Homo sapiens: one gene and its partners. The protein of the gene in region 2 interacts with the protein of the main gene of each other region in a pairwise test. Each region holds a gene or a part of one and is shown on either strand. Other genes may lie near its edges.

The links. The genes of interacting proteins can lie anywhere in the genome.
Region 1: the proteins of EEF2KMT (region 2) and PRTFDC1 interact in binary tests that used the Homo sapiens proteins (3 or more experiments, as listed by UniProt).
Region 3: the proteins of EEF2KMT (region 2) and ZNF213 interact in binary tests that used the Homo sapiens proteins (3 or more experiments, as listed by UniProt).

Annotation. Positions count from the first base shown.
Region 1 is NC_000010.11:24,846,830-24,851,650, forward strand, and holds the end of PRTFDC1 (phosphoribosyltransferase domain-containing protein 1), read right to left. Parts: intron 4,636-4,821; coding exon 4,559-4,635; intron 3,063-4,558; coding exon 3,015-3,062; 3' UTR 1,785-3,014; downstream 1-1,784. UniProt on the Homo sapiens protein: Has low, barely detectable phosphoribosyltransferase activity (in vitro). Binds GMP, IMP and alpha-D-5-phosphoribosyl 1-pyrophosphate (PRPP). Is not expected to contribute to purine metabolism or GMP salvage.
Region 2 is NC_000016.10:5,093,836-5,104,075, forward strand, and holds the start of EEF2KMT (protein-lysine N-methyltransferase EEF2KMT), read right to left. Parts: upstream 3,961-10,240; 5' UTR 3,905-3,960; coding exon 3,809-3,904; intron 3,519-3,808; exon of another isoform or gene 3,445-3,518; intron 1,680-3,444; coding exon 1,617-1,679; intron 1-1,616. UniProt on the Homo sapiens protein: Catalyzes the trimethylation of eukaryotic elongation factor 2 (EEF2) on 'Lys-525'.
Region 3 is NC_000016.10:3,137,985-3,144,588, forward strand, and holds the end of ZNF213 (zinc finger protein 213), read left to right. Parts: intron 1-369; exon of another isoform or gene 370-433; coding exon 434-557; intron 558-760; coding exon 761-834; intron 835-990; coding exon 991-1,114; intron 1,115-2,651; coding exon of another isoform or gene 2,652-2,704; coding exon 2,705-3,363; 3' UTR 3,364-4,820; downstream 4,821-6,604. UniProt on the Homo sapiens protein: May be involved in transcriptional regulation.

The sequences.
Region 1 (4,821 bases), on a different chromosome or scaffold from region 2:
GCTCCTCAATGAAATGTGAAGAACAGCTGGCCTGTCAGCTCCACTATGCAGCACAAAGATAACCATGAATGCAGCTCTTTAGGCTGGTGTCTTAGTCTTCCTCTTTGCACCGGGCTCAGAAGCCATCATGGGTGTATGACTGGCCAAGAAATAATGCAGCCCTCTCCATGCACACCCTCTTCCTATTTCTGCACACCTCCCCTCAGCAGCGTGCAAAGGCCCCTCTTGAGATCCCCTTCTTCCCTTCCTGAAACTGGCTTGTTGTTAGCTCTCAATTGTCATCTTGGGATCCAAAGGAGCTTCACGATTGCAAAGTCAGTAAAACTCCCAAATGCTAAGTTTGCCCAAATTAGTCAGATAACTGGGTGGAGAGCGTGGTTTGGGGTTTCAACTTCCTAGAACACACTACCTCTATGACAAAAGGGAGGGCATATTTCCATGACACCCGGTCTCTGGATGTGGAATAGCCTGCTTTTTCTCTCCATTGGGAAGACACAAGTTGATTTCACAGAAGGCTGAGCAAATGCCTGACTGTGCTCTGAAAGGCTGTTTTCACAGTCTCAGAAGGCCTGAAACATGGCAAGCCATCTTATACGCAAAGATTAAACAAGGTATGTCGGGATTTGACTATTTGCCATTTACATCTAGGGGGTCCGTGGGTCAAAAATGAGTACATTCCAGTCCCTGTAAGAAAGGACCAATTTATAATGAGGGGTTCTAATTTGTTTGGAAAATCCCAAAATATTACTAATTATGTTGATTATAACTGATTCCAAACTTCCCAGTGAAATACACACACACGCGCGCACACGCACACACACACACATACACACACGCACACGCACACACACATACACACACACACACATACACATTTTCCCCCTTACAAATCAGCTTTGGAACACTAAATTAATAATGGATTTGTTATTAATCAAGTAATAAGTTTTGCATTTTTGGTTTAGAGTGAATAAACTCAGTGATATTAACTAGACATGAGTTTTGCAAGAGAAAAGGAAATACTATTTTTCCCAAGATGACTTTCTTGGCTATCACTGTCAAAATATTGTCTGGTAGGAAAAAACTGCAAGCATGATTAAACTTCTTGCATATTTAGTGAATTTTCAGCATTAACTATACAAGTCCTCACAATCTTGTGAGGTAGATCAATCTCCTTTCTAATTTGAATAAACAGACTGTCCTCAGAAAGGATACTGATGCTTACTAAAATTCAACGTTTTTAAGAAAACATTTTCATATTGCATACTTATGGATAATTTTACACTTAAAACCAAATGTGTGCCTGGATTTTTCTAGGTCCTCTGACATAAACATGGCATTGTGAAAAAAAAGCTATATTCAGAGTGTTAATTTTGGTATTTCAAGAAATTCGTCAGTCAGACACAATTATAAATCTAAGCTTGGGTACCAATGCTTCTGTGAAACAAAGCTAGAAGAGATTCCTTTTGCAGACTTATCCCTTGGGATATTTGGGTGTGGCTTGTTTTCTTCTCTGACCGAAACAAAGATATGCAGGAAAATCTTCTTTTACAACTAAAATTCCTTGTTCTCACAAACGAGCTTGAGGAAAAAAAAAAGCAGCAGATCTAGCCCAGCTTAATCATTTGCTTCTACTAGTGCATATATTGGATTTAATCCAAGTTAACAAAAATAAAGCCGCAGGATAGATACATGCAGTCGTATATTTAAGCTACTGACTCACATACATGTTAATGTCTGAAAGTATTTAAAAAATATGGAGGCGGAAGAAAAACAGTAAGAAGTGATAAAACATAACAAGTTTTCTTATTCTTTATTAGTTTAAAGGAAGCTAGAACCTAATAACAATACGCCACATACGGTTCAGAACCAAACAAAAGCTGCTTAGTTATTTATTTTGCATTTGCATTTTGTAGGAAGTGAGAAAAAAACAGCTCTATTGGGACTCAAGTTTATTTTCAATTAAAATCCCCATAAATTAGGAAATGTCTTATAAAACGGAGAAATTGGAAAAAAATGTTATTCAGAAAAAAACTTTCTTGAGTGTGCTTGTTTCCTGTAGCACCTTGGATTTTGTGATCAGTCTTTTAAAGATATTTTTTAAAAAATTCAACCTCTGTCTTCACATTTAGGACAGGGCATAACAGTGTCTTGTCCTTTCATGCAAATAAGAGGAAAAATTTATACTTGCTTAGTTTCGAGCATTGAAAGCACTCGCCCCTAATTCTGCCATTTGCTCATGTCCCACATGAATAAAAGGATACAGCTTAGAAACCAGGGCCTTGCTGCTATTGTATTTTTTTCTAATTAAAATTCAGAGTATTAAACACAGTTGAGTACATCCATGCATACATGACATACCGTCATCACATACCGGAAGCTCCAATCAAGAGCCCCGAGCAAAGCTCGTTTCATAACATCATTAAGATTCATTGTACACTGCGTTTCAGAAAGGCTTTGTCAAAGCAGATAATAATGGCCTGTCAGAAATGCACAAACAGAAATTTATATTAAATTGTCCTTTCCCTCCTTTTAAAATATGGGAATCTATTAATAGCTGCATTCCCGGTATAGGGGACTCAAGTCTTCAGTTAAAAAAAAGTCCCCAGCTTCTTAATATTGTAAGCTTATTACCAAAATAAGAGTATAAAAAGTTAAGTGAAAAATATTTGAGTAACTAGGTGGGGGTATTCCTGGGAATACTAATCAAATATAATGACTGTATCAAAACAAAGGAAGGCGGAGCTCAGGAGTGTGAAGGTAGATAGCATTGCTGAGTCACAAGGCGGAGTGTTTAATTTGGAACAAGTCAAATAAAAGCACTGCTTTCTTTTCCTTAGGAACCTTTGATACTCTTTATATTAACCTCAGAAAAGAAAGCTCTCTCATTTGAACATTTTTTTCTTTTATATCCTGCTGAGTGAAGATGCCTGGGGGGACAAACTTGACAGCTGGCTTCCCAAGTACAGGCGTAAATATGATGCTATCTGGGACTTTAGTGGTGAGAATTCATGTCTTTAGACTCGATATTTTTCTTTACCGTGCTCATTGATGACGCATATGTGCTGAAACAATAAAGGATTTAAACGCATCAGTTTCTTAACAAAATATGAGACACAGAAAAGGTGATGCAGTAATAACCGAATGCCATCCTGTAATTGGCTATTGATCATTTAAATAGAAATGTGTGTATTTATATGTGTGGGTAAAATCTAAAGAGACCCATTCAAGTGCTTGACAAAAGGTCCTTTGTGGTTTAGTTTGGAGATTCCTATTCTGAATCCGGCTCCCCAGGTCCCTAAAACCCAGAAATGCTGAGGGAGCTGTATGTTTAGCCCTGCTAGAAACAGAAGTCTCCTACTGGTAAGATGACAACTGCTTGGGTGAATGGAGAAATAACAGTGGCAAGCACAACATGGGCTCTTATTCAACCCTTTTTGGGCAACAAGCAAAGGGTTAGGAATATTTTGATTGAAAGCAACAGAAATGGGGCCAGGCTAATGTAAGCAAAAAAGGAGGATTTGGATGGGCTCAGTGGCCCCTGTCTGTAATCCCAGTACTTTGGGAGGCTGAGGTGGGAGCATGATTTGAAGCCAGGAGTTCAAGACCAGCCTGGACAGCATACGAAGACCCCATCTCTACAGCAAGTAAAAATATTAGCTAGGCATAGTGGCGTGTGCCTGTAGTCCCAGCTACTCAGGAGGCTGAGGCGGGAGGATCGCTTGAGCCTGGGAGTTCAAGGCTGCAGTGAGCTATGATTGCGTCACTGCACTCTAGCCTAGGTGAGACTGTGGAGTGAGACCCTGTGTCTTTAAAGAGGGGGGAGGGGGAATTTATTGGTGGAATACTGGGGTAGCTCTCAGAATCCAAGGATGAGCTGGGCAATGAAGCAACTAGAAGGCAGGAACAAGGGCAGCTCCAGAGACTTTCACCCATGGTGCTATGGATACTCTCTGGGGGCACTGCTATCCTAGTGGTTGAAGTCTGAACACACTCAGTCTCTGTGACTTTTGGTTTAAATTTCTAATTCCCAGGACAGAGAGACTGATTGGTCCACTATGGGTAAGTTGTCTACCTCTAGATCATGCAGTGTTGGTCAGGGTCACACAGCTGGGGTCCACACTGGGGGTCCACGTCTGTGTGGTGAGATCATTTCCCCCAAAGAGGGAAGAGTTATGAGCTGCATGCCACTGTAATTGAAACCTGCTAGAGTTCAAGCACTGACACAAACCAGTGTATAGAATATTGGCTATTGTTATGGTTGGTTGGGCACAGTCAATGACTATGGAGAAGAATCAGTGTCAAACCATAGTTCTGCTTTTAGCTTCCTATTTCTTTAGTACAAAATAGAGATAATCATAATTTGCCTCTATCATCCTGATACCTACCCTGCAGAATAGTAGTGGGAGTTAATTGGGAGTATGGATGCAATGTGCTCACCATACTCCTGACATAGAAGATACTCAATCAATAGCAGACATCACTAACACGCATTCAATACTTTTTTAAATTGTTAAGTTCTTATAAAAAGGGCGGTTAGGGATTTGCATGCAAGACTTACATTCAGATCTCTGAAGTATTCATTGTAATCTAAGGCATATCCCACCACAAATAAGTTTGGAATCTCAAATCCAGCATCTTAGCAGACAGAGAAAGAGAAAAAAAAAAAGGAACAAAATTTAGATTATATAAATGCAAGTCACCATATGCTGCTGTCGCCACTCAAACTTGAGGACCTTTCATTGAGGCAGGAGGGAGTGAGAAATGGTGAGAAATGCACACGATGAGCCCAAGAGGGACCTGGACCCGAAGGACTACTCGGGA
Region 2 (10,240 bases):
CCCTCCCAGGGGAGCCAGTGTGAACCAGGGTTTGCAGTAAGGACAGTCGCCAACGGTCTGGCTCTATGGAAGAGGCGGGAAGGCCCACTCGGCAACTGCTCTCTTGGAGTGTGTGTCCCTGGGGACAGGATGGAGGGGACGGGACGCTCCGGGTGACACTCCAGCTAAAGCCCAGAGAAGCCAAATGCAGGATGAGCAAGTTCTAGGCAGTGGGAACAGCTGGTGCAAGCTCTGAGGTGGCCACAGCCTGGCACTTGGAAAGGAGGGCAGAGGGACTGGTGCAGCAGGAGTGGGGACGGCGGGAAAACAGGAGCCTGGAGGGAGAGGGAGGAGACGGTCCACAGTGCCTGCTGGCTGGGAGGGATGCAGATTCTGCCCAAGGGCAGCAAAGTACCCCACGCAATACACAGGCTCTTCAGGCTGGTGCTGGTTTTTCATTTATTCTGACACAGAGTCTCGCCCTGTTGCCCAGGCTGGAGTGCAGTGGCCCGATCTTGGCTCACTGCAGCCTCTGCCTCCTGGGTTCAAGCGATTCTCCTGCCTCAGCCTCCTGAGTAGCTGGGACTATAGGCATGTACCACCACGCCCAGCTAATTTTTGTATTTTTAGTAGAGATGGGTTTTTGCCATGTTGGCTAGGCTGGTCTGGAACTCCTGACCTTAGGTGATCTGTCCACCTCAGCCTCCCAAAGTCCTGGGATTACAGGTGTGAGCCAGTGCACCCAGCCTTGTGCTGGGTTTTAAAGCAGCTCTCCCTACATTTCATGCTTCACCACCTACGAGAGTGAGGCTCAGGGTGAAACTCAGAGCAGGGTGCGAGATAACTTCAGGTATCTCCATGCTCGAAGCCCTGGTATTGCCCCGAAAGTTTTCCCTGCTGTGGCTGTATCTTTTCCACATGGATAATCTTGGTTCACCTCTAGCACAGGAATTCTTCACCGGGGCTCCTAGGATGGGCTGGGTGGGTGGGGGTGGAGGATATCTGCCTCCTGAGTTTGTATGGAAAATGTATTCTTCTGGTGCACTTCTTTCTGCGAGGGAGTCTATTGCTTGGTCTTTTCAGAAGGGCTCATGGCCCTTCGAACGTGAAGACCCAGGATGCAGGGTGATCTGCACTTGGCCCTCAAGGCCAAGGTCAGGCTGTGGCTGGGCCGGGTGGTGATCCTGCCTCTCACCTGCAGGCAGATGCACTTGAGTCCAAACCCCACCCTGGGCAAAGCAAGGGCCCATTTAGGTCTAGAGGAGACAGGAGTGGGCAGGACAGGCCTCATGAAAGCAAAAAAGAAAGTCTCTGAACATCAACCAAATGCTAGAAGCTGTTTTGCACCTGTCATCTCTGTTTTTGCTGTGGATGGTTTAAAAAACATTCCCTAGATTCCCCCCTCTCATTGCAGGTTTTTGTATATTCTGAAGTCTTTGTCTAAGTCTTAAATAGAAAACGAAAGCGCTGGAGCTGTCAGAGGTGCTGACACCCACCTGCAGTGCTGACTCAATGGTTTTGTTTTTTGAACAGGGGTGTTTTTAAAGGGTACAAGCACACCTGCAGTTCTTCTCTCAGGTCTTCTGGAGAGATTCAGGAGGCAGGGTCATGAGTCCCAGGGACTCTGGGATTCTTACCTTGTGCAAAATATCCCGCAGCAGCTCAGAATCTGATGAGTCTCTTAACTTTGCTTCTAAGCTCTGTGTGGAGGGGAAAGAGAGAAATCTCAAGGGCGCATTCACAGGAACATTAAACACGCAATAGAATGTGTTGGCAAAGCGCTGTGTGATCCCTCCCTGGGGACGTGGAGCCAGTTGGAAGTGGAAGCCACAGCGGCTGAAAGCCTGACATTCAGATGTCGCAGGGTGCACCTGGATGAGTCACAGGAAGAAGGCTGACTTTTGGCCACATTAGTCCTGGCTACTTAGCGGCCACCCGGGTCATGGGCCAGCTCCCTGGTTGCACTGCTCAGCCAGGAATTACCAGGGCAGCCATGGCACCAAGGTTTGATGGGCTTGCCATCTAAGTGGAGATGCAGAATGTGCCCATACCAGCCTGAGTTACATTATCCTCTTACAGGGGCCTCAAGCCCAGCAGCGAGCCTTGGCTCCCGAGTTAGGCAGACTGTCTCGGCTGGTATGTGACACAGGGCAAGGCACTTCATTGCTTCAGAGCTCCCTCCATGCCATAAAAGGCCCTACAAGACCTGGTCCTAATCCCTCTCTCTGGCCTGTTCTCCCTCACCCCTGGCCCACCCTGCTCACTCCACTCCAGCCACACTGGCTGCCTTGGTGTTGTTCCTCAACCACAGCTGGCTTGTTTCCACCACAGGGCCTTTGCATATCCTGTTCCCCAAGCCCTTCCCATGGCTGGCTGCTTCACCACTCAGGCCCCAGTTCAAATGCCACCTCTTTGGGGAAGGCTTCCCTGATTCCCTGACTTTGGTGACTCTTCTTCCCAGTTCCCGCATTCACTATTTCCCTGTTTTATTGGCTTTAAAGCCACTGTCATCTGGTCTTTTCTTGTTTATTTATTTGTTTATTCTCTGGCTCTCCCATGCAAGCAGAGCCTCATCTGTCATGGGTACTGCTGATCCATGGTGCCTGGCTCACAGAAGGCATTTATTAAACATTTTGAGACTGAATAAAAACACTAGCTAACACCAACATGTATTTACCATGAGCCAGGCACTGATCCACAGGCTTTTGTACTCAACCCTGACAACAACCCTAAGAGGTAGGTATCATTATATCCCCCATTTTATTAATAAGAAAACAGCACAGAGAGATGCAGTCACTTGCCCAAGGTCACACAGGGCCAGGGGCTGGGCCAGGATTCGAAGCAGACAGGCTGTCTCCTGGGTCTGAACTCTCAACTACTGCACCCTAATCAAACAATCCCTCTGGTCAAATGTGAGTGGTAATAATAGTACCCACCTCGTGGGTGTTGAGGGTGAGCCCAAGTTAGCATTCAGCGTGGGCATGTGAACAATTACAGTCAATACTGAATGGAGACCTATGATGCTTTTATGAAGGTTTCTATTTTGGGTTAAAAATGCACGAATTTCTCTTGACCAGAAATGATCTCTGAGTGCAAATATTTTATGTCAATGGAATAACGCAAATGATTAAGCAACACCCCATAAAATGGGGCAGACCCAGGGAGGAATATATATCCAAACTCACTCATCCCAGTGAGCTCACCGCACATGAATTACAAATGAGGCCGGGTGCATTAAGCCCCTCTGCTGGCAGAAGGGAGGCTGCTGCCTGCCATGGGCCTGTGCTGAGAATGGCAGGTCCCCAGGGCGAGGAGAGGCCACCCCCTTCTCTGTCTCTTCCATCACAGGCGTGACAGCCTCAGAGCATGAGCCGATTCTGTGCAGTGCTCAACATACAGATGAGAATACTGAGGCACGAGGGACAGCCTGTGACCCGGTCACCGCGCTCAGGAGGACGTGGTTACCTGCGGTCCTGACGGCGCTGACTTTTTAGAATGGGCGAGGGCAGCTGTGTCCCAGTGACCAGAACGATTACTGCCTTTAAAAAGTCGTGAAAATGATCGTGAACTGTACCCCACACCGAGCGCGCGTCTGCCCCCCAAGGCTGTGGAGACGCCCCCAGCTTCCCCCGCCAGCTCGCGGGGCAGGAGGGGTGCGAGCGACTCTGGCCAGGCCCCAGGGACGGGGACCGGGTCGCGCGGCCCTGACCGGCGGGAGCCCAGGAACTCACGTGGCGGGAGCGCCAGGGGCTTCAGCACGGAGACCCGTCCCGTCTGCCCCTGGACTCCCGCGAGCCCCGCGGGCCTCTCCGCTCGCCCCGCCGCCCACCTGCCAGGGGAAGGAGCGCAGTGTGCGTGCCGCCAGGAAGCGGCGCTCGAAACTCTGCAGCAAGAGTTCGGTCCCCGCGTTCTCCTCGGGCGCCATGACGTGGGCGGGGCCGCAGCGTTGCCGGCAGACCGGGCGGAAGCCCGGCCTGGACTGAAGAGGGGGCGGGCCCAGGGCAGTGAGCGGGGGCAGAGAGGGGGCGGGGCCCGGGGGTCCCCCGGGGGTCAGGAGGAACGTCGTGGGGGCGGACTCTAGGGCGGGGCCAGGATGATTGTTATGAGGGCGGGGCCTGGGGTGGGGCCAGGATAAGCGTCGTTGGGGCAGGTCCTGGGTAGGGGGCAGGTCCTGGGTAGAGTCCAGGTTGGCGGGTCCTGGGGCGGGGCCAGGATAGGGCGATCCTGGAAGCTGGGCTTCAGAAGCGTCCAGGTTGGTGGCGTCCTGGAGGCGGGGCCTTGCGTGGGGGCAGGATAAGAGTCCTGGAGGCGGGCATTAGGGCAGGGATAAACGCCATTGGGTTCAGGAGGCGAGACTCGGAGCAGAGCCCAGGAGACAGGTCTTAGGGCGGCGCTAAGGCCAGACCCAGAGAAGAGCTCAGGAGGCGGGGCCGGGGCGGGGCGTTGACTATGTCGTAGCACATGGCCAGGCGGTGCTCGGACTCTGGGAGGCGGAGCTTAGGACGGGCCGACGTGGGGAGGGGCCCAGGGTCCGGGAGGCGGGGCCGAGTCCGGGCTGCGGGCTGCGCTCAGGAGGCGGGCCCTGGGAGGCGGAGCTTAGGGAGGGGCCGGTGTCGGGAGGGACCCAGGGACTGGGAGGCCGGTCGGGGCTGGGCTCAGGGGCCGAGACCTAGCTGGGCTTGGGGCGGGGCCGAGACGGAGCGAGGGGTCCAGGGCGTGGGAAACGGGGAGGGGTTTGAGGAGGGGATCGGAATGTGGCTCAAGTTCGGGAGGCGTTACCTGTGGAGGGTTTGAGGCAGGCCCAGCAGCGAGGCCACGGTCTGCCGACGCGGGGCCAGGGGCGGGCCCCAGGATCCGGAGCTTAGGGCGGGGCCGAGTCCGGGTTTGGGGACCGGGAGGCGGGGCCGGTTAGGGCGAGGGTCCCTGGGATCGTCGGGTCAGGCCTTGGGCCAACGTAGGCACTCTCGCAGTTCCTCCGCCTTCAGGAAGGTCTTTTTGGCAGGGGCCCTACGGGTGCGCGCTTCGGTCCTGGAGGCCTTATCCAAGCCTCCTCTCCATCAGCGCCACCCGTCTGGGGTCCGAAAGGAGGGAGCTTTCCCTCTGTCCCCCAGCCTTTGGACTGTCACCAAACAAGCCATTCGTTCACCAAATACTTATTAAGCGCCTACCAGGTACCTGACAAGGGAGATGTAACGGTGAGAAAAACTAGGTGTGGTCCAGGCCCTCCAGGGGCTCAGGGGCTCGTGGAAGAAGTGGACATTGAAGTATTTATCACACAAATGAGTATAAAAGTACAATAGCGATATCTGCCACGAAGGCGAGCAGACAGAGCTAGCGGGGCTTGCAGGAGGAGTTTTGATCTTGCAGGGACAGGAAGGAGGAGTTAGCTCCTGCGGGGTGGGATTGGGGGTGGTGGTGATATAGACGTGGGGACAGAGTGGAAAACAACAAAAATATAATTAATTTAGTTCAAAGTTATTGTGTCTTGAGTTGAAAGGCAGGGCAGTTAGCAACACAGTTCAGATTTCAGTACTGCCCCTGAAATCTGAACTGTGTTCAAAGTCTAAAACGTTTACCTTAGCAAATCCCTCATAAAACTCCATTTGGAAGAGTCCCGAGAGCTAATTTGTAAAGTATACTTGCAGAAGGTAGATGAGGAGACAGATTAAATCTTATTACCTCTTTCAGATGAGAGGCTCTTGAGCCCTGCTCAGCTATGAGAATAAGAGGGGAATTAATTCTAATAGAATACACTTGTTCTCGCATAGCTGTTGTTCCCCACCAGAACCAAATGAGCTCAAGATCTGACAAAGAAAAAAAAAAAGGTTCATCTTTTATTCCCCCAAACACTTTCATTTAAATCAAGAGGGTGGGATGTGGTTATTGCTGTGTTTTTAGACAGAATCAACAGTTTCTGGGTCTGAGATATTGCATACACCCTCTCAGTCCCTGTATCCTGAGATAGAGTCACCTGATAATCCACAGCAAGTCCTAACCAGGGATGGGTCTGGGTGCTTAAGGAAGGTTGGCTTCAGAACTGGGCCAGGGGCACTGCTTTGCTTTTGCTGTTTTGATCAGCTCTCTGCCTGCAGGAGACAAGGAAAACCAATGGTAACAAGTTAGTTACACTCATAAATCCTGGGCTTATTTTATTAACTCACATAATAGCTATTAATTGCCTTTCCTCCAAGGAGCAAAAGGGCATATACGGTCAATGCTGTAATAAGTAACACTGTATTATGTTATACTAAAATATTAATAAATCTAGGTTGGTTCAGTCTTTCCTGATTCCATAGATTGCAAGCAGATTGAGGAAGGACCCTAGCAGACCACAGAGCTGAGCCATGAGCACAGAAGAAATCTTTTTTTCTTTTTTTTTTTTTTGAGACGGAGTTTCGTTCTCTTGTTGCCCAGGCTGGAGTGCAATGGCGCAATCTCGGCTCACTGCAACCTCTACCTCCCGGGTTCAACCGATTCTCCTGCTTCAGCCTCCCGAGTAGCTGGGATTACAGGCGTGAGCCACCATGCCGGGCCATTTTTGTATTTTTAGTGGAGACAGGGTTTTAACACGTTGGCCAGGCTGGTCTCAAATTCCTGACCGCAGGTGATCCGCCCGCCTCTGTCTCCCAAAGTGCTGGGATTACAGGCGTGAACCACCGCGCCTGGCCAGAAGAAATCTTTATCTTGGTGTGCGGGTTCAGATGAGGGACAAATGTCATCTCTCTTGGATCTGAATCTGGAAGGATCAAGGCACTGAAGGGATTTTTTTTGTTTCAGAGAGTCTAGAGTCTCCCTCTGTCGCCAGGCTGGAGTGCAGCGGCACGATCTCGGCTTCTGCAAATTCTGCCTCCCGGGCTCAAGCGATTCTCCTGCCTTAGCCTCCGGAGTAGCTGGGACTACAGGCACGCGTCCCCATGCCCGGCTAATTTTTGTATTTTTAGTAGAGACGGGGTTTCACCATGTTGGTCAGGATGGTCTCAATCTCTTGACCTCATGATCCATCTGCCTTGGCCTCCCAAAGGGCTGGGATTACAGGCGTGAGCCACCATGCCCGGCCTCACTGAAGGGATTTTTTTAATGTCACGTGGCTGTCACAGGTGCGGTGTGTTCGGGTGCAAGTGAAGATTAGGACTGATGCTTAAAAACAAACGTGAAATTCCAGGCGGTGTTGCTACGGGGAGCAGCATCAGGACAAGCTGGTTTCAGTTGCAAGAGTTTGCGTGTACGTGCAAGAACTACAGTCGAGATTCAACTTCCGGCTTTGAGGGTCTCTTTAATAACAGTAATAACAACCTAAGGCAGTTTAACAGTATGGAATGGTTGCCTTTTAGAAGTTAAGCTATGGGCATGGAAGTTCAATCAGTCCATTGAAGTTTTTCCTTTATCTCTCCTATGGTTAATGGTTTCTGCAGAAAAGGACCAATTGATTTCTTTCTAAAACGTTGCTTCAGGGTGTAGAGACCTTTATAGGTCATGTTTCAACTTACAGAAAATTTTATAGTTCAAATATAAATTACGTTCAATGTGGACTTTGCAATAGAATTGAAGGTTAAGTAAAGTTTCCACTTTCCTTAGGCTGTTTGCAGTGCCCAGCAGGCCCCATGATATCGAGGTGGAAGTTATGTTAAAGGAGGAGGTTGGTCAGGGATGGGTAGAATAAGGAATATGCGCAGCTCAGGCTAATGATGCAATGACTGAGGTGTAGAAAGAGGGCCAGGCACGGGATAACGCCTGTAATCTCAGTGCTTTGGGAGGCCAAGGCAAGAGGATCACTTGAGGTCAGGAGACCAGCCTGGTCAACAGAGTGAGCAGAGTGAGACCTAACCTGTACAAAAAAACCACAAAAAACCAAAAAAATTAGTTGGGCATGATGGTGTGCGCCTGTAGTCTCAGCCACTTGGAAGGCTGAGGTCAAGGGATCCCTTGAGCCCAGGAGTTTGAGGCTGTAGTGAGCTATAATCACATAACTGTACTCCAGCCTGGGTGACAGGGTGAGGCCCTGACTCAAAAAAAATTGAGTCAGGGAAAAAATTGGAAATCTTAATCCTCCGTACCCAGGAATGTGACCTTATTTGGAAATAGGGTCTTTCTAGATGTAATCAAGTAATGATGAATCGTACTGGATTGGGGGCTGCTGGTGAGGAGGCAGATGCAATGACCGGCGTCCTGATAAAAGAAGAGAATGAGGGCCGGGCATGGTGGCTCATGCCTGTAATCTCAGCACACTTTGGGAGGGTGAGGTGGGTGGATCACTTGAGGTCAGGAGTTCGAGACCAGCCTGGCCAACATGGTGAAACTCCATCTCTACTAAAAACACAAAATTAGCACTGCGTGGTGGCGGGCGCCCGTAATCCCAGCTACTCAGGAGGCTGAGGCGGGAGAATCACCGGAACCTAGGAGGCGGAGGTTACAGTGAGCCAAGATTGTGCCAGTGCACTTCAGCCTGGGTGACAGAGGGAAACTCCATCTCAAAAAAATAAAAGAGGAGAATGTCAGGTGAAGACAGAGACACAGGGAGAAGGCAGCCATGTGATGAGGGAGGAGAGATGGGAGCGATGCATCTACAAGGAACACCAAGCATTACCAGCGGCCACCAGAAGCCAGAAGAGGCAAGGAAGTATTCTCTCTTACATATTTCAGAGGAAGCGAAGCCCGGCCGACACCTTGATTTTGGGCTTCTGGCATCCAGGCCTGCGAGACAATACATTTCTGTTGTTTTCAGTCACATGCGGGGCCCTTGTTGTGTTGTGGTTTTTTTTTTTTTTGGAGATGGAGTTTCACTCTTGTGCCCCAAGCCGGAGTACAATGGCGCGACCTTGGCTCTCTGCAACCTCCTCCTCCCAGGTTCAAGCTATTCTCCTGCCTCAGCCTCCTGAGTAGCTGGGATTACAGGCATGCGCCACCTTGTCTAGCTAATTTTTCTATTTTAGTAGAGATGGGGTTTCACCATGTTGGCCGGCTGGTCTCAAAATCCTGACCTCAAGTGATCCGCCTGCCTCAGCCTCCCAAAGTGCTGGGGTTACAGGCATGAGCCACCGTGCACGGCCTTGTGGTTATTTTTTTTAGACAAGAATCCGCTGTGTCATCCAGGCTGGAGTACAGTGGTACAATCTCACCTCCTGCAGCCTCGACCTCCCTGGGCTCAGGTAATTCTCCCATCTCAGCCTCCAAGTAGCTGGGACTACACGCTTGGCTAATTTTTGTATTTTCTGTAGAGATGGGGTCTTGCTGTGTTGCCCAGGCTGGTCTCAAACTTCTTGGGCTCAAGCCATCTGCCTGCCTTGGCCTCCCAAAGTGCTAGGATTACAGGCATGAGCCACTATCCCTGGCCACCCTTGTTAAAAAATAAAGAATTTGAAGATGGTGATGGCAGATTATTAAACCACAGTGGGGACTCTTCTGTGTCCCTGTGGGACTGTCCAGGTTGCAAGCCTATGAAGCCGGCCCTGGCTGCTGGGTTCTTGGAGTGCTGGACCTCCCGTGGCATGTGGCAAGGAGTTGTCATGGGTTATCACGACATATGATGATCAACTATGGGAGACCCAAAGACCACTCAGTCCTTTTTCCGATGAATGGCTGTGTATGTCACACTAGCAACAAACAGAACCGCAAGAGCTCCTGTGACAATGCTGAGCCCGATCACTGCGCCTTGCAGAGCAGATGCCGTCTGTACCTCCCTCCTGTTAAGAAACCAGAGGGTTTTTAATTGCCTGATTATTAAGAGGCTCTTCTGGCTGCTCCTGGTTTCCTGGGAAGTTTCCCATCTAGCCGCTAGTGAGTATTCATTATGGAAATGAAATGTACATTTAACCCAAGAAAATGCTCACTCTAGAGAAATCTCATAGGGCAAGTCGTTGAAAGCCGATTTACTAAATGACCTCTTCACCAAATGACCCATTTGCCTAATGACCACTTTGCCAAATGATCAATTTGCTGAAAGCCAATTCGCTGAAAATCTGTTTGTGGGATATCCTGCTTATTAGTAACTGACAGTCAGACGCAGCTTATCCCAGGCTGCCGTTCCCCATTTTACAGCTGGGGAAAATGAGTTACAGAGCTTGTTTGCATTGAGTCAACAGGAGCAAATGCTAGATCAGGTAATTGAACCCAAGCAATCTGGTTCCAGAGCCAAATAGATGTATTTTTTATGGTACAAAAACATATACATACATTTTTAGGGGAAGGGTGGGTGTAGGGTGGGATGAGGATTCTGGGTAATTGCTTGGTAAATGCCAAATACCTTTCTTGTCTGTCCCTCTTT
Region 3 (6,604 bases), 2.0 Mb from region 2:
CTCTGGGGACACAAGGGTGTGCATAGAGCCAGCTCCAGAGTGGGGCGAGAAGGTGGAGCTGTCCGGGGCCTCTGCTACCTTGTGGGATGTTGGGTCCTTCACATTGGATGCATCTGGGGAGGTTCTAATGAGTGGCTGGGGGATGGGGTTCTGCCTTTGGCAGGAGGGTCCCCAGCTACCCCCTTGCTAAGTGGCTGTGATTCTGGCCTTTCAGGGCTGGTTCTTGCCTCGTGAATGATCGGGGAGCATCCTTGGGCACACAGCATTACCTGGTATCACATTCTCCTCCGGACTTTTCCTGGGGCACCATATTGGTCTCCTTCCCACACCCCAGCATCCTGAGGGTCATGTCCTGTGTCTCCTTCCCAGGGAGTAAACTCTGTCTCCCCCGGTCTGGTCTCGGGCTGATGAGCATGTTGTGGTTCCTGCACAGGATGTGCCCTCGGAGGAGGCGGAACCCGAGGCTGCAGGCCGGGGATCCCAGGCCACGGGGCCTCCCCCGACGGTGGGGGCACGGAGGCGGCCGTCTGTTCCCCAGGAGCAGCACAGCCATAGCGGTGAGTAAGCCTCCGTTCTTGTGGACAGTCGAGTGGCTGGGCAGGGACCTAGCTTTGTCACCGGCGTTGCCCTAAGGGTCACAGGCAGGACAGCTCCCTCTGTGAAGTCCAGGGCGTGTGTGCATGCGCACAGGCTGGGGAGGCCATAGGCGTCGGTGTCAAGCCTGGGCTGGCCTTTCTAAGGCTCCATTCTTCTCCTTCAGCCCAGCCTCCTGCTCTTCTTAAAGAGGGTCGTCCCGGAGAGACGACGGACACCTGCTTTGTCTCTGGGGTCCATGTGAGTCACCAGTCCCTTTGTCTTCTTTAAGGCACTTGGCCCTGTTGAGTTTGTAAAATGGGACTTGCTGTCCCATCAGGCCTCTTTCATCTGACCCATCCTGTCCCCGCCAGTGCTGCTGGGAGGCCTGAGCCGGGTCTTCTCACCCCATTCCAGGGACCTGTGGCATTGGGAGACATCCCATTCTATTTCTCCCGGGAAGAATGGGGCACCCTGGACCCTGCTCAGCGGGATCTCTTCTGGGACATAAAGCGGGAGAACTCCCGGAACACCACCCTGGGTAAGCACCCAGGGCCTTTGGGTCCAGGCTGGCCGCCCCCGATTCTGCTGGAACTTCAGTCTTGTTTCCCACCCCATCCTTAGCTGGTTCCAAAGCAGGCTCTCCCTAGGTCTTGCCAGGAGCCTGAGTAACTCCTTTCTTGGCTGATGATCAGTTTTTGTGCGTTTCCACATGCAGCATGGGACGGCGCCGGCGCTGCCCAGCCCTGCAGTTGCTCTAAGGGCAACTTCTCCTTTGAGTCTCACAACCTAGTGCATGGAAGTATTGTCCCCATTTTACGCATAAGGGACCTGAGACTCAGGTCAGTGGATGCTGAAGGGACACAGCTGGGACTTGGATCAGGCACAGTTGTGAGGCCACCTTGGGCTGCTAGGAGCAGGGGTGCTGACGGGGAACCCCAGCTGCTCACCAGCCTGGGCCCCTGCTCGTCAGAACTGCACTTACCAGGTTCCTCTCCATGCCAGGCCCCTTCTCAGCACCATCAGGGATCATCTTGTTCAGTCACACTCCCAGGAGGATGGGCTGCGACCTCTGTCCAGATCTGTGTTGAGTTTGGAGAACTAGAGCCTGCGTGGTGAAGGGAGCCACACTAGCTAGACCAGTTTGGCTCCTCAGTTTCCGACTGTGACGGTTGGGAAAAATTTTCTTTCTTTTTTTTTTTTTTGAGATGGAGTCTTGCTCTGTCGCCAGGCCGGAATGCAGTGGTGTGATCTCAGCTCACTGAAACTTCCACCTCCCGGGTTCAAGCAATTCTCCTGCCTCAGCCTGAGTAGCTGGGATTACAGGCATGAGCCACCATGCCCGGCTAATTTTTTTGTATTTTTAATAGAGACGAGTTTTCACCATGTTGGTCAGGCTGGTCTCGAACTCCTGACTTCATGATCCGCCTGCCTCAGCCTCCCAAAGTGCTGGGATTACAGGCGTGAGCCACCGCGCCCGGCCCTTGAAAAGTTTCAGAATTACTATAAATCTGTTCTGCTGTGGAGCTTGATATCTGGGGTTCAGAGTGGGACATTGGATCCCAGTGTGGCCTGCAGGGCACAGATGGCTTAGGGGGCTGGCCCATGCAGGCGGGATCAGAGGCTTATTCAGACTGCTGCTCTGCCGAATTTTTTCATCATCCCTGATTTATTTGGGTTTTTGTTTGTTTTTGAGACAAAGTCTCGCTCTTGGAGTGCAATGGCATGATCCCGGCTTACTGCAACCTCCGCTTCATGGGTTCAAGTGATTCTTCTACCTCAGCCTCCTGAGTAGCTGGGATTACAGATGTGCGCCACCATGCCCTGCTGATTTTTGCATTTTTTAATAGAGACGGGGTTTCACCATGTTGGCCAGGCTGGTCTCGAACTCCTAACCTCAGGTGATCAGCTCGCCTCAGCCTCCCAAAATGTTGGGATTACAGGCTTGAGTCACTGCGCCTGGCCAATCATCCCTGTTTTATAGATGAGGAACCTGAGAATTCAGCTGTGTGAACCCAGGGCTTTCTGAACCTGGAGGCCAGGGAGCTTTCCCCAGCCTTGTTTCTTCCTCACCTCAGCTCTGGCCCCAGAACCGCGTGGGACTGAAGAGGTCGCCTCCTTCCCCTTGCAGGTTTTGGGCTCAAAGGCCAAAGTGAGAAGTCCCTGCTGCAGGAGATGGTGCCGGTGGTGCCAGGCCAGACAGGCAGCGACGTGACTGTGTCCTGGAGCCCCGAGGAGGCTGAGGCCTGGGAGAGCGAGAACCGGCCGAGGGCGGCCCTGGGCCCAGTGGTGGGCGCGCGACGGGGGCGGCCACCCACTCGCCGGCGCCAGTTCCGGGACCTGGCAGCCGAGAAGCCGCACAGCTGCGGGCAGTGTGGAAAGCGCTTCCGCTGGGGCTCGGACCTGGCGCGGCACCAGCGCACGCACACGGGCGAGAAGCCACACAAGTGCCCTGAGTGCGACAAGAGCTTCCGCAGCTCCTCGGACCTGGTGCGCCACCAAGGCGTGCACACGGGCGAGAAGCCCTTCTCCTGTTCCGAGTGCGGCAAGAGCTTCAGCCGCAGCGCCTACCTGGCCGACCACCAGCGCATACACACGGGCGAGAAGCCTTTCGGCTGCAGCGACTGCGGCAAGAGCTTCTCGCTGCGCTCCTACCTGCTGGACCATCGGCGTGTGCACACCGGTGAGCGGCCCTTCGGCTGCGGAGAGTGCGACAAGAGCTTCAAGCAGCGCGCGCACCTCATCGCGCATCAGAGCCTGCACGCCAAGATGGCCCAGCCCGTGGGGTGAGCAGCTGGCTTGGCCGGAAACCCGGGGGAGGCCCAGCCACGGCACATCCTGCTTTGTTCACCACTGGGACTCTCCTTCCATCTGTGGCCACCTCCCGGGCTGTCCGAGGGACCCCAGGGTACCTCACACTCGGAGCTCGCCTGCCCTGCTTGGCTCTGAGGACCTGCCCAGCGCTCAAAGGGAACGGAAGCCTTCCCCTCCCGCCCCCGATCTTGTCCTCTTTCCCCCTTCTGCGCCTAGCGTTCCTCTTCCCCTCTAGTTTCCTGGAGCCCCAACACATTCCTGGCAGGGACAGCAGGGTGGCAAGGACTCAGGTCTAGGTCCCTTCCCAGAAGCCCCCGAGCCTCATTTGACTGTGTGGCTCTTTGGCCCCCACCCTGTGGGGTGGGTCCATGGGTCAGGCCTCTGCCCTACCAACCTGTGCCTTTCAGTGGGCGTGGAGGACTGGCCTTGGCCCCCCAGGGGGCTGCTGGACTTTGGGAGAGACAGCCCACACCTGTGGGACCGCGGGTCTTAGTCACGGCGGCAGGGGCTTTCTGGCCCCCTCCCACTCCCGTTTCCAGGCCATGACCACTCTGCCCTGTCCTGGCCATACGGACTCGGCCTGCCTTTGCCCTCGGCCTACTTGCCCTAGCATGAGGCTCTGAGAGCCACCTGCCCACCAATCTGGTGAGGATAATGGTGGCTCCAGCGACAGGAGGCCAACCCTGGAGACCAAGAACAGGGCGCCTGGCTGCCATCTTTTCCTCCAGAGGTGGGGCTGCACCAGACTCAGCACTAGCACTCCATCAGCACTAGCACCTCACTCCATCAGCACTAGCACCTCACTCCATCGGCCCCGGCACCCTGCTCCATCGGCACTGGCGCCCTGCTCCATCGGCACTAATGCTCCACTCGGCGCCCCACTCCATCGGCCCCGCTCCATCGGCACTAATGCCCCACTCGGCGCCCCACTCCATCAGCACTAATGCTCCACTCCATTGGCACTAACGCCCCAACTCCAGCGGCACTAATGACCCGCTCCTTTGACATTGGTGCCCCACTCCATCAGCACTAACGCCCTGCTCCATCGGCACTGGTGTCCCACTCCATTGTCACTAACGTCCGGCTCCATCGGCACTACCACCCCGCTCCATCATCACTATGTCCAGCTCCGTCGGCACTACCACCCTGCTCCATCATCACTACGTCCAGCTCCAACGGCACTGGTGCCCCATTCCATCGGCACTAACGCCCCGCTCCACCGGCACCAGTGCCTCGCTCCATTGGCACCAACGCCCAGCTCCACCGGTACTGGCTCCCTGCTCCATCGGCACTAACGCCCTGCTTCATTGGCACTTTGCTGCTGCCTCCTGAGCACTGCCTTCCATGAACAGGGACAGACCAGAGGCCCTGCAAGGACTCCCCCTCAGACCTCCAAAGGGCAACAGAAGAGTATTAATAAACGTGAAAACTTACCTCCAGGCTGTTCTGTTCTTTCGGTAGCTGGAGGGTGGGGATACCTGGAATATATGCCCCTTGCCCTGGCCTTGTGTCCTGGTGGCACATGCTGCTGCACCGTGACCAGGCGGAGCTGCGTCCTTGGCGTCCAGGTCGGCTGGGCCCCAATGGGCAGCCGTGTCCCCTGGGACTCTTGTCCCCCTGTGTCAGCTAGTGCCTGCCCTGCTCTGGGAGCACCGTCGGTGCTCCAGCAGAACGGGGAGCTGAGCAGGACTCAGGGTCTTCACCAGGCCACTCCTCTCCCACAACTGTGAAAGGAAGAAGGGCCCATAGACGCTGCTTGGTCAGTGGTGGGACCCTCTTGCTGCGTGTTGGGGATCTGGAACTCAAGGCTGCCCCAGGCTGAGTCCCTTGGAGGAGGGGCTGACAGCGGGCTTGCCCTTCCCACCAGCCCCTGACATCCAACTTCTCCCTACCAGGAGCCCCAGGCCGGGACCCACCAAGGGCTGGTGGGTGCGTGGTCAAAACTAGTGATCATCCAGGCACGACCCCTCCTTCCACCCATGCTGGTTCCTTCTCTTTCACCTGCTAGTGGCCTCAGGGCCCCTGGCTGAGGGGAGGCGGGGGCCGGTGGACAAGACGCTCTGGTCCCTTGGTAACAGGTGTGCATGTGCCAGCCCTCTCTGCCCCTAGGCCTTTCTTAGCCAACCTTCCATGCACACATCATCCTGCGGTCACTGTCATGGTCTCCGTTTCCCGTAAGAAGCAAGCAAGGTCTCGCTGTGGACAAGGCTGATTCCAGTTGGTGATTTTTACCTCTGGGGGCCTGGTGCTGTGTGCATGCGTGTGGCGGGTGGCCGGGATGGTACAAGGACTTCTTGGTGGCGGTGGCTGGCTCCAAATGGAGACACTCGGGTGTAACGAGATCAGATAAGCACGTAGGCCAGGAGCTAAGAATAGGATTGAGCACAGGTTCCTGGCTCGGGTAGGGGCATGTCAGTGCCAGCAAAGAAGTCACCAGCAGGAGCCAGAGAATGAAGCCCAGGCTGGGAGAGCGGGGCCAGGACCCAGGGTTCCAGGGATGGGGCAGAGTCCAGCTCAGCTCATAAGCAGAGCTGATAGTACTCGTTAGGGTAGAGGGCAAGGGTTAGGACCCAGGGCACTGAGAGCCCAGGGCCAGGAGGTGAGCTCCGAGCTTGGTGCTTGGAGGAAGCCCCGTCTCGCCCTATGGCCTTCCTGGTGGCTGGGACCCTGCGGCTGGCCACGCAGATGGCAGACACTCGAGACAGCCTGGGGAGAAAGGTAGCAGGAGGCACCGCCTAGCCCAGCTGCTCCTGCCTCCCTGCTGAGCCCCAGCCCAGCCCAGCCCAGCCCAGCTCTGGCCTTGCCTCCCCAGGGGAAGTATGACGTCCAGGGTCCAAGGGCAGCCCTGATGCTCAGCAGCCCTGGGGTGGCGGCCGCTGTAGTCACTGCCCTGGAGGACGTGTTCCAGGCCCTGGGCTTTGAGAGCTGCGAGAGGAGGGAGGTCCCGGTCCAGGTGAGCCTCTGCCTCTTACATCCACCCTCAGGCCCAGCACCGACCCCTTCCCCACTCTCCCCTGACCCAGAATCTCCTCCCCACCCAAAACCTCCCCGGACTCAGGTCGGTCTCACTCTTGCCCCTAGGGCTTCCTCGAGGAACTGGCTTGGTTCCAGGAGCAGCTGGATGCCCACGGGCGCCCTGTGGGGTGTGCCTTAGTGGCCTTGATGCCCCCAGAGGGCAGCTGAGGCAGCCACAGCAGCTGGTCCGGGAGCTGAGCGG